Linked DNA regions of Homo sapiens. The protein of the gene in region 2 purifies or fractionates together with the protein of the main gene of each other region. This does not show direct contact. Each region holds a gene or a part of one and is shown on either strand. Other genes may lie near its edges.

Evidence for each region.
Region 1: the proteins of AVPI1 (region 2) and IPO5 purify together in Homo sapiens (affinity purification with mass spectrometry; one large-scale study listed by BioGRID and IntAct). This does not show direct contact.
Region 3: the proteins of AVPI1 (region 2) and AKR1C1 purify together in Homo sapiens (co-immunoprecipitation; one large-scale study listed by IntAct). This does not show direct contact.

Annotation. Positions count from the first base shown.
Region 1 is NC_000013.11:97,960,033-97,963,687, forward strand, and holds part of IPO5 (importin-5), read left to right. Parts: intron 1-314; exon of another isoform or gene 315-371; intron 372-3,127; exon of another isoform or gene 3,128-3,250; intron 3,251-3,655. UniProt on the Homo sapiens protein: Functions in nuclear protein import as nuclear transport receptor. Serves as receptor for nuclear localization signals (NLS) in cargo substrates.
Region 2 is NC_000010.11:97,677,151-97,680,805, reverse strand, and holds the end of AVPI1 (arginine vasopressin-induced protein 1), read left to right. Parts: intron 1-890; 5' UTR 891-900; coding exon 901-1,187; intron 1,188-2,780; coding exon 2,781-2,937; 3' UTR 2,938-3,382; downstream 3,383-3,655. UniProt on the Homo sapiens protein: May be involved in MAP kinase activation, epithelial sodium channel (ENaC) down-regulation and cell cycling.
Region 3 is NC_000010.11:4,969,879-4,973,533, forward strand, and holds part of AKR1C1 (aldo-keto reductase family 1 member C1), read left to right. Parts: exon of another isoform or gene 1-520; intron 521-2,041; exon of another isoform or gene 2,042-2,151; intron 2,152-2,322; coding exon 2,323-2,432; intron 2,433-2,520; exon of another isoform or gene 2,521-2,705; coding exon 2,706-2,871; intron 2,872-3,655. UniProt on the Homo sapiens protein: Cytosolic aldo-keto reductase that catalyzes the NADH and NADPH-dependent reduction of ketosteroids to hydroxysteroids.

The DNA.
Region 1 (3,655 bases), on a different chromosome or scaffold from region 2:
ATCAAGCAGTACTACACATAGGATGCATGGAATTGAAGCCTATGAACCATTATAAGGTCCCTTTCATTTGTTCCTCATTAACTGTGGATGACTAAAAATCCATGCTGCCAATAGCTCCAACTATGAGATGCAGATCGATGTCACAATTCAGACTCCATTATGTATGTCCTCACAATGCAGGAGGTGAAATGTGTATGTCATGTGTCCAAATTGTAAGATACTTGCTGTAAGTAGCAAAAAGATGGGAAGGAAAGTCTACAGACCAAATCATATCTGAATCTCCCCATTCTCCCTCTCCACAAATATTGGTTTAGGAATTCTCCGAAGTTTGAAGGTTATGAATGGTTATCACTCAAGGATTCAGAACTAAGGTAAAAATACTGTGAATGATAGGGGGAAAAAATCACTAATTGAGGTCTAAATCAATATCCTTCAGCTCTCTAAGGAAATGTATTTTTAATATAATAGCTTTATTGAGACATTCATACACCATAAAGTCCAAATTTTACTTTTTATTTTATTTATTTGGTTTTTTTTTTTTTTGAGATGGAGTTTCACCCTTGTCACCCAGGCTGGAGTGCAATGGCATGATCTCGGCTCACTGCAACCTCCACCTCCTGGGTTCAAGCAATTCTCCTGCCTCAGCCTCTTGAGTAGCTGGGATTACAGTCGCGCACCACTACGCCCAGCTAACTTTTGTACTTTCAGTAGAGACAGCGTTTCACCATGTTGGTCAAGCTGGTCTCGAACTCCTGACCTCAGGTGATCCACTCGCCTGAGCCTCCCAAAGTGCTGGGATTACAGGCATGAGCCACCTCACCCAGCCTAAAGTTCAACCTTCTAAAGTGTACAATGGAGTGTTTAGTATATTCAGTGGGCTGCACATTCATCACTATCACCCTTTCCTCACCCTAAAAGAAAACTCCATACCTGCTAGCACTCACTGATTCCCCTACCCACCCCATGCCCAGGCACATGGCAAGCACCAATCTACTGTCTATGGATGTGCTGATTCTGGACATTTCCCATAAGTGGGACCAAAAAAATGTGTGGTCTTTTTGTCTGATTTCCTTCAGGCAGTCTAATGAGTTTAAGGTTCACTCATGTTGTTACATGTATCATTACTTTATTCTTTTATTGCGAAGTAATATTTCCTTGTATAGTTAGAAGACATTTTGTTTATCCATTCACCAGTGGATGGACAGTTGAATTGTTTCCACTTTTTGGCTGTGGTGAATAATGTTGCCATGAACATTCATGTACAAGTTTTTGTGTCAACATATGTTGTCTTTTCTCTTGCACATATACCTAGGAGTGAAATTACTGAGTCAAATGGTAACTCAGGCTGGAGTGCAATGGCACGATCTCGGCTCAACGCAACCTCTGCCTCCCAGGTTCAAGTGATTCTCATGCCTCAGCCTCTCGAGTAACTGGAATTACAGGCATGCGTCACCACACCCAGCTTATTCAGACTGTTTTCCAAATTGGCTGTAACATTTTATGTTCCTATTAGCAAAGTATGAGCGTTTGAATTTCTCCACATTCTTGTCAACACTTGCTGTTGCCTTTTTTATTAAAGCCATTTTATTGGGTATGAAGTGGTAACTTACATTGTGGTTTTGATTTGCATTTCTCTAATGATGAATGATGTTGCACATCTTTTCATGTGCTTATTGGCCATTTGTATATTTTCTCTGGAGAAATGTCTATTCAAATGTTTTACCCATTTTTTTAATTGGGTTGTCTTTTTTTAATTGAGAGTAGGGCTTTTTAAATATTCTGGATATAAGTCCCTTATAAGACATATGATTTGTGGCCAGGCGCAGTGGCTCACACCTGTAATCCCAGCACTTTGGGAGACCAAAGTGAGTGGATCACTTGAGGTCAGGAGTTCAAGACCAGCCTGGCCAACACGGCAAAACCCCATCTCTACTAAAAATACAAAAATTAGCTGGGCGTGGGGGCGCACACCTGTAATCCCAGCTAATCTGGAGGCTGAGGCAGGAGAATCACTTGAACCTGGGAGGCAGAGCCTGCAGTGAGCTGAGATCATGCCAATGCATTCCAGCCTGGGTGACAGAGTGAGACTTTGTCTCAAAAAATATACATTATTTGCATATATTTTCTCCCATTCTATGAGTTGTCTTTTCTCTTTCTTGATGGTGTCCTTAAAAGCACAAAGGTTTTAATTTTGTGAAGTTCAATGTATCCATTTTTCTCTTCTGCCTTTTGTGATTTTGATGTCATAGCTAAAAAATGATTGCCTACCCCAAAGCGATGAAGATTTAGTCCTATATTTTCTTGTAAGAATTTTATAGTTTTAGCTCTTACATTTAGTCTATGATCCACTTTGAAGTTTTTATGACGTGAAGTATGGGTCCAGCTTCATTCTAACGCATGTGGATATCAAGTTGTACCGGCAACAATCTTTCCACAGTGAACAGTCATGGCTCCTATATTAGCCAGGGTCCTCAAGAGAAAATGAACCAATAAGAAATAGATGGATGGGCACAGTGGCTCACACCTGTAATCCCAGCACTTTGGGGGGCCCAGGCAGGCAGATCACTTGAGGTCAGGAGTTCGAGACCAGCCTGGCCAACATGGTGAAACCCCTGTCTCTATTAAAAATACAAAAAATTAGCTGGGTATGGTGAGGCACATCCGTAGTCCCAGCTGCTCAGGAGGCTGAGGCACAAGAATCACTTGAGCCTGGGAGGCAGAGGTTGCAGTGAGCCAAGATTGTGCCACTGCACTCCAGCCTGGGTGACAGAGTGAAACTGTCTCAAAAAAAAAAAAAAGGTAGATAGATAGATTTATTTTAAGGAATCTGCTACATAATTATGAGAGATGGAAAGTTCAAATCCTGCAGGGCAGGCTAGCAGGCTGGAAATTCAGGTTTGAGTTGATGTTGTAGTCTTGAGTTTGAAATCTGAAGGGCAAACCAGCAGGTGGAGATTCGGGCAAGGTTTCTGTGCTGTGGTCTTGTAGCAGAATTGTTTCTTCCCCCAGAAACCTCCATCTTTGCTATTAAGGCCTTCAACTGATTAGATGAAGCCCACCCACCTTGTGGAGGGTAATTTGCTTTAGTTAAAGTCAACTGATTATAAATGTTAAATTGTATCCACAGATACTTTCCCAGCAACATCTAGACTGCTGTTTGACCAAACAACGGGGCTCCAACAGCCTAGCCAAGTGAAACATAAAACTAACCATCACAGTATCCTTGTCAAAAATCAGTCTGACAACACATGTAAGGTTTATTTCTGGAGTCACTATTCAATTCCATTGATCTATATGTCTGTCCTTATGCCGGTAACACTTGTGTCTTAATTATTATAGCTTTTTTTTTTTTTTTTGAGACGGAGTCTAGCTCTGTCACCAGGCTAGAGTGCAGTGGTGGAATCTCAGCTCACTGCAATCTCCGCCTCCTGGGTTCAAGCAATTCCCTTGCCTCAGCCTCCCAAGTAGCTGGGACTACAGGCATGCACCCTCACGCCCGGCTAATTTTTTGTATTTTAGTACAGATGGGGTTTCACCATGTTGGCCAGGATGGTCTCGATCTTCTGACCTCATGATCTGCCCGCCTCAGCCTCCCAAAATGCTAGGATTATAGGTGTGAGCCACTGCACCCGGCCATTATTACAGCTTTATAGTA
Region 2 (3,655 bases):
GTTAGATCTGATTGGCTCATTTCATACTATGTTTGCTAAATTATACAGATTTGGTTCATCCCCAGGGTCTTAAAGATAGGAGGTGGGATGATGTCTCAATTTTATAGATTGAAAACACTGACCACTATTCTATATACTTTGTCTTCCTTCAATCTTCAAATTAATCCTACAAAGTAGGTAGTAGTACTAGGTGATAATTTGACACGGGAGGCAGCTGAGGCAGGGGGGATGCCCAGCCAGTAAGTGGTGGAGGGGGTAGAAGTGGGATTCCAACTCGGGTAGCCCAGCTCCACAACTCCTCTCTTACCTTTGTGCTACGGCACCTGGGCCTTAGCATCAGAGAGGCCTGGGTTCTCATCCTAGTTGCAGAACCATGGATGACTTAACCTTTCCTCAGATTCCTCATCTGTGAAATGAGGAGGATTAAAATACCTACCTTACAGGGCTGTTGTGCTTGTTACATCTCATTGATACTATGTGAAGCAAGCTGTTACAGGTGCCTGGTATAAGTACTCAACACAGTTGAGCTGCTACTGGGCATCCTGGCGTCTGCATGGAATCTACAGCTAGACAGACCTGGGTTCAACTGCTGGCTCTGCATGTGCACGTGGCTTTGTGACGCTGGCAAGTCATTTAACCCCTCTGAGTTGCACTTCTTCATCGGTAAAATGAGGATAAACAATAATTCTTACCTCATGGGTTGCTTTGAATCCTAAATGAGATAATATGGGGGTCTGACACATAAGTGCTTAAGTGATTTTAAGGCAGGAGACTTCCTCCAGTTTAGCTCTTGGAGAATGGAAACATCAGAAGCCCTAGGATTAGCCAGGACCCCCAGGTCTGGGAAGGACCAGCTGAGTTGATGATGTCTCCATGCTTTGCATCCTCAGAGCATCCACAATGGGTACCCCAGCCTCGGTGGTCAGTGAGCCACCCCCTTGGCAGGCCCCGATTGAGGCCCGGGGCCGCAAGCAGGCCTCGGCCAACATCTTCCAGGACGCCGAGCTGCTGCAGATCCAAGCCCTGTTTCAACGCAGCGGGGACCAGCTGGCCGAGGAACGGGCACAGATCATCTGGGAATGTGCAGGGGACCACCGTGTGGCTGAGGCCCTCAAGAGGCTGCGCAGGAAGAGGCCCCCAAGGCAGAAACCCCTGGGCCACTCGCTACACCACTGCAGCCGCCTCAGGTAGGTTCCTAGAACCGGATGGCTGAGGGAAGAGCACTAATGCCTGTTCCACCACTGCATGGCTGTGTGGCCTGGAGCTAGTTACTTGGCCTCACTGTAAAGTGCCTGCCCACCATTGGGGTGGTTATAAGGTCTACACAGTGTCACCACTTGGTTGGCACTTAAGAGATTGCTGTTGGTGGGTGCAGTGGCTCATCCCTGTAATCCCAGCACTTTGGGAGGCCGAGGCAGGCAGATCACTAGGTCAGGAGTTTGAGACCAGCCTGACCAACATGGTGAAACCCTGTCTCTACTAAAATTACAAAAATTAGCTGGGTGTGGTGGCACACACCTGTAATCCCAGCTACTCAGCAGGGTGAGGCAGGAGAGTCACTTGAATCTGGGAGGTGGAGGTTGCAGTGAGCTGAGATGACGCCACCGCACTCCAGCCAGCCTGGGTGACAGAGCGAGACTCTGTCTCAAAAAAAAAAAAAAAAAGATTGCTGTTACTTTTGGAGTCATATACAACCCTGTGAACTCCCATGGAAAGAGATGCCTGAGTCCTAGTAGCATCACCTCATTCTGCCGTTATTCTCAGCTTACCAGCCTGGGCAACATGGCGAGATCCTGTCTCTGAAAACACACACACACACACACACACACACACACACACACACACACACACACACACACACACACACACACACACACACACACACACACACACACACACACACACACACACACACACACACACACCCTCCCCCCGCCAAAAAAAAGAGAAATTAGCCAGGCATGGTGGCATGCACCTGCGGTCCCAGCTACTCCAGGGGCTGAGGTAGGAGGATCACTTGAGGCCAGGAGTTTGAGGCTGCAGTAAGCTATGATCCTGTCACTGCACTCCAGCCTGAGTGACCTGAGTGACAGAGTGAGATTCTCTTTTTTTTTTTTTTTTAAGCCTAATTAAAATCTTGGCTGGGGGATTACAGAGAATATAGCCTAGGAATGTACTGTCGAGGCATTATGGGTTAAAAATTGTTGAAAACTTTTACCTTGAGATCTCTCCCCAGTCTCCCTGGTGGGCCACTTCTTTGCCTAGGCCACTGCCAGCCCAGGAAGAGTGAACCCAAAGGGATGGAGCTGAACCACTTGGCCTCAACCAATCACTATGGGTGATGCTCTGGGCTTCATCTCTCTGCTGCCTTCTCTGGGGCCCACAATCAGAACATCAGACCTAAACAGGCCTTTGGAGGTCATCAGGTCCTGAGATGGCAAGTCAGTGTCATAGCTTGTATTTAACTCCAGTTAATTAGTAGTCACTGCTTATCAAACCAGTTTAATAGCATGACTTATGACATCTGCCATGAGTACAGGATGAGGATGAAGAAATGTTGAGTTTTGCACAACCTGATCTGGTCCAACCCTTTCTACTGCAGAGAAATCTGTAAACTTTGTCTAGTCAGACAGTTCTCAGAGGGGGAAAGACCAGAGCAGAGCCCCGCTCTCATTTTGCTCCAAATCATATGTTTTATGGTCCACCATGACGAAATCTCTTGAAGTCCCCATTCCATTCTTCCTATTGATGTTGGCTAATCATACACTTGTTCTCTGCAGAATCCTGGAGCCCCACTCTGCACTGGCCAACCCACAGAGTGCCACAGAGACAGCCTCCAGTGAGCAGTATCTGCACTCTAGGAAGAAAAGTGCCAGGATCCGCCGGAACTGGAGGAAGTCAGGCCCCACAAGCTACCTCCACCAGATCAGACACTGATCCAGGGAAAGAGCCAGGAATGGCAGTGTCTTCCCTCTTGCCAAAAGGCCTGGGGAGGTGAAGGAAGAGAGACTTTAGGCAAGCAGCCCAAAGGGGTAAATGAAAGCAAGAGGCTGCTGCCACTGACCTGCTCCATTCAGAACAAGACTGGATGCTTCTGTTGAGCTCTCCATTATGTGGGACCCATTCCTCACCAAAATGAGGAGAGACAGTGACTGTTCCTGCCACAGTCCTTCCCAGTCTAACACTATTCCTGGGCTGCATGATATTCCCCTGGGAGCAAAGTGACAGGCACTTAGATGCAGCATTTCACCACTCATGCTACTAATCATCTACCTGCTACTACTGTAAACCATGGTTCCAGCAGCCTGTTCCACACCCCCACACCATCAGGATAGCACAGGGAAACTGTAGTTTAAGTGGCAAATAAAAACATTTGCATCAAGAGCTGTGTGAGTCTGTCACAGAAGGGGAGGAAATGAAACAGAGTGGGAGGGGCAAGAGTGTCCCCAGGAAGGAAAAATCAGGGCTGGCCTCCTCTCTCCTTTTCACCTCCCTCTCCTTTTTCACCCCCATGCTGAGCCCCTGGACCACAGCCTCCTTTTCCAGAGTCTGTTGGATCGGGAGTAAAGAGGGGAGTCTCTGCAGCAGTCCTGATCCATAGGATCAGGAGAAGGGGGAAGACTGTCATGGTCAGCCCAGCACAGTAGGCTGAGGC
Region 3 (3,655 bases), about 93 Mb from region 2:
AAATTAGTGAATTTGGTATAATGATACGGTGCTGTGATAATTTAATAAAAGCATTGAGAAATTAATGTGGTTTTAATACTAGTAGTTCCCCAATTTTTTAATATGGCCATTTTCACACTTTCCAAAAATTTGATAAAAATAATACTGGAGACCCATGTTACCATTTATATTCAAAATTACTAACATTTTGCAATGTTATATGGAGTATATCTGCATAAATACATATAATGTTTCTAGAACCTCTTCAAGGTAAATTGTAAAGATGACAATTGACCCCTAGAGACCTCTCAAAGCATGTCACAGGAATGAAGATATTCTCCCAGTTCCAGTGTCATTACTGTATCTAAGAACATCATCTATAGTGCCCTCATGTCATTTGGTATCCAGTCCATATTTGAATTTTTCCTTGCTTAATCAAAATATCTTTTGTAGCTCTTCTTTTTTTAACCAGAATTCAATTGTTTTTATATTGTTGTATTTTGATATCAGTTAACTTGTTTTTCCCAGTTGTTGAAGGTTTCTGTAAATTAGAAGTTAGATGAGAGTGTTTTATTACATTGACTTAAACCTTTGGGGCAAGAAAATATTTTTATCATGCTGTGTTTTTCAAATTGCACCACACTAGACTGCATACAATCACAGAATGCCCCACTAGTGGTGAAGGTAGTTTTAAAAACTTGGTTAAGCTCCAACAATGATAGACTGGATTAAGAAAATGTGGCACATATACACCATGGAATACTATGCAGCCATAAAAAATGATGAGTTCATATCCTTTGTAGGGACATGGATGAAACTGGAAATCATCATTGTCAGTAAACTATCGCAAGAACAAAAAACCAAACACCGCATATTCTCACTCATAGGTGGGAATTGAACAATGAGATCACATGGATACAGGAAGGGGAATATCACACTCTGGGGACTGTTGTGGGGTGGGGGGAGGGGGGAGGGATAGCACTGGGAGATATACCTAATGCTAGATGACGAGTTAGTAGGTGCAGCGTACCAACATGGCACATGTATACATATGTAACTAACCTGCACAATGTGCACATGTACCCTCGAACTTAAAGTATAATAAAAAAAAAAAAACTTGGTTAAGCTAACAGTGGTCAGATCTGTTGTTTTTAACTCATGTTTTCTCTTTAACAATTACTAGTAATCTGCTGGGGGATAATTCTCAACAGAAGAAGTCATATTCCCATGACAAATTTTCACATATGATTGAGTATACATCAGTGATTTGAACTTTTTTCTACTGCATTTCTGTTTTCTTCTTTGTTATTTCTTATTTGTTATTTCCTTGGGGTTTTTACATAATCATTTACAATTTTAACCACTTGTTTAACTATTCTTACCTGACATTTAATTAAAAATGATTTCTCACCAAGTAAAAATAATAAACTACTATTCCTCTAAGTGAGGGTAAAGGTGAACTTCTTCCTTCAATTAGCAATGTACTGTGAACGTAATTACTGTAATGACCACCATCAGAGTAGACAAAGATTGTTGTTCTTTTTCTCATTGTCGCACTAATTACTACAGACTCACGGATTCTTGTGTTATGATTTTTAATTTATTTTACTCATTTTTTAATGCTCACATCTACTCAGCATATATATATTATATATATATATATATAAAATATATATGAAAGAAGAATGTGATCAAAGACTCATGAGGGCAAGTGTAAAAGACAAAAGCACTTGTTTCATAGGGAACCCACTGGTGACATTTGAGATATCAACATACAAATCCATCATACAAAAAGGAAAAGTAATGAAAGACTGTGAAAATTATCAGTATTTATGTGTGTATGTATATTTTCTAGTTCATCTATATAGATATATATCATAGATGGCATATATGATATATATATTATATGTCAGATCAATTAGAAAACATACATATACATGTATGCATTTTTGGTATTAATTAGGAAACTAGTTCTTTTGTCTTTCAGACCTGCCCTCATGAGTCTTTGACCAAATTCTTGATTTCTGGCACGATTTGATGCCCAAGGCTCAAAGAATCTTACCTCATCCCAGCTCTGAAATTGGCCGTGTCTCGTTCTAGTGGTCGGAGTTATTGAGAAACCAGGATAGGGTTCATGGAGTTGCTTGTGCTCAGAAATAGCATTTCTATTTTCTTAGGAGAGAGGGGCATAAAATTTATTTTTATGAAAAAGATCATTTTTGACAATAATATTCTCAGTTCAAATTTAATGCTCTACATTATTCAGCTTCTTTTACTTTGGTGATTTTAATATTAGTGTAACTTTTGGATTATCTGATGCTTTTCCATCTTGCTCGTCTGCAGGTGGAATGTCATCCTTACTTCAACCAGAGAAAACTGCTGGATTTCTGCAAGTCAAAAGACATTGTTCTGGTTGCCTATAGTGCTCTGGGATCCCACCGAGAAGAACCATGGTAATAAGAGATACAGGAAGTTTACCTAAAACACCGGTTTGATAAAAAAAATTTAATCAGATCATGCTGTTTCCTGGAGTTCACTCACAGCTGACTTGGGGTGAGGGAAGAATTTGCATTTCTGACGAGATCCCAGGTGATGTTGAGGCTGCTGTTCGGGGGCCTCGCTTGAGAAGCTCCGGTGCAGAGTGGACGCCTTAGTCTGTTTAGGGAGCCGCCTAACAAACTGTATCCCCAGCCTCAGGGCCTCAGCCTTTCTGCCTTTCCTTCCAGGGTGGACCCGAACTCCCCGGTGCTCTTGGAGGACCCAGTCCTTTGTGCCTTGGCAAAAAAGCACAAGCGAACCCCAGCCCTGATTGCCCTGCGCTACCAGCTACAGCGTGGGGTTGTGGTCCTGGCCAAGAGCTACAATGAGCAGCGCATCAGACAGAACGTGCAGGTGAGGAGCGGGGCTGTGGGCCTCAGGTCTCCTGCACAGTGTCCTTCACACGTGTGCTTCTTGTAAGGCTCTCAGGACAGCCTTGGGCCAGCTCCATTTCCCTGTATTTCCTATGCATGAACTCTTTGTGTACGTCATAAGGGTTTCTTCTACTCTAGCACAGGAGAGGCAACAGAGGTGGAGAGAAATAGGATGGGATCAAAACTACAGATTTGGGTTAGCGTTAAGTCAGTGATATCCATATCCCTCTGCTGGGGCCATGTCCTTTTCTTTATTTTTTATAATGAAGCATTGATTAGATGTTCTTTAGTCTCCAACTCATGGCGGATTTTTCTTCTTGTATGTTTATGTAGTATAAATTCCTTATATTTATTCTCTTAGAATTTTATCTTTGCGAAGTGCTTGTTTAACTCTGCCTTTTTTTTTTTGGCGAGGTGGTTGTGTGTCTTTATTTTTATGTGTAGGAGACCATATTTATACCAATACCTTAGGATATAAGACAAACCCACTTAATATAGAGGCTTAATGCAAAAGCATTTATTGAGCTCAAGGTTCCATGGTTAGAAAATTAGCCTGGGCTCAGCCTAAACTCAGTCCATTCCTTCTGTTCCTGGCTGGGCTCTCATGTGTGTTCAGGGCAGTGAGGCAGCTCTGCTTCAGGATGTCCCTGGGGCATCTGTGTGAGCGCCCCCCTCTCCCATGCAGTTCTTTATCCTCCAGCCATCCAGCCCAGGGTTCACCTCAGCACAGGGCATGACCCCAAGGCAGTGAGTGGACATGTGCA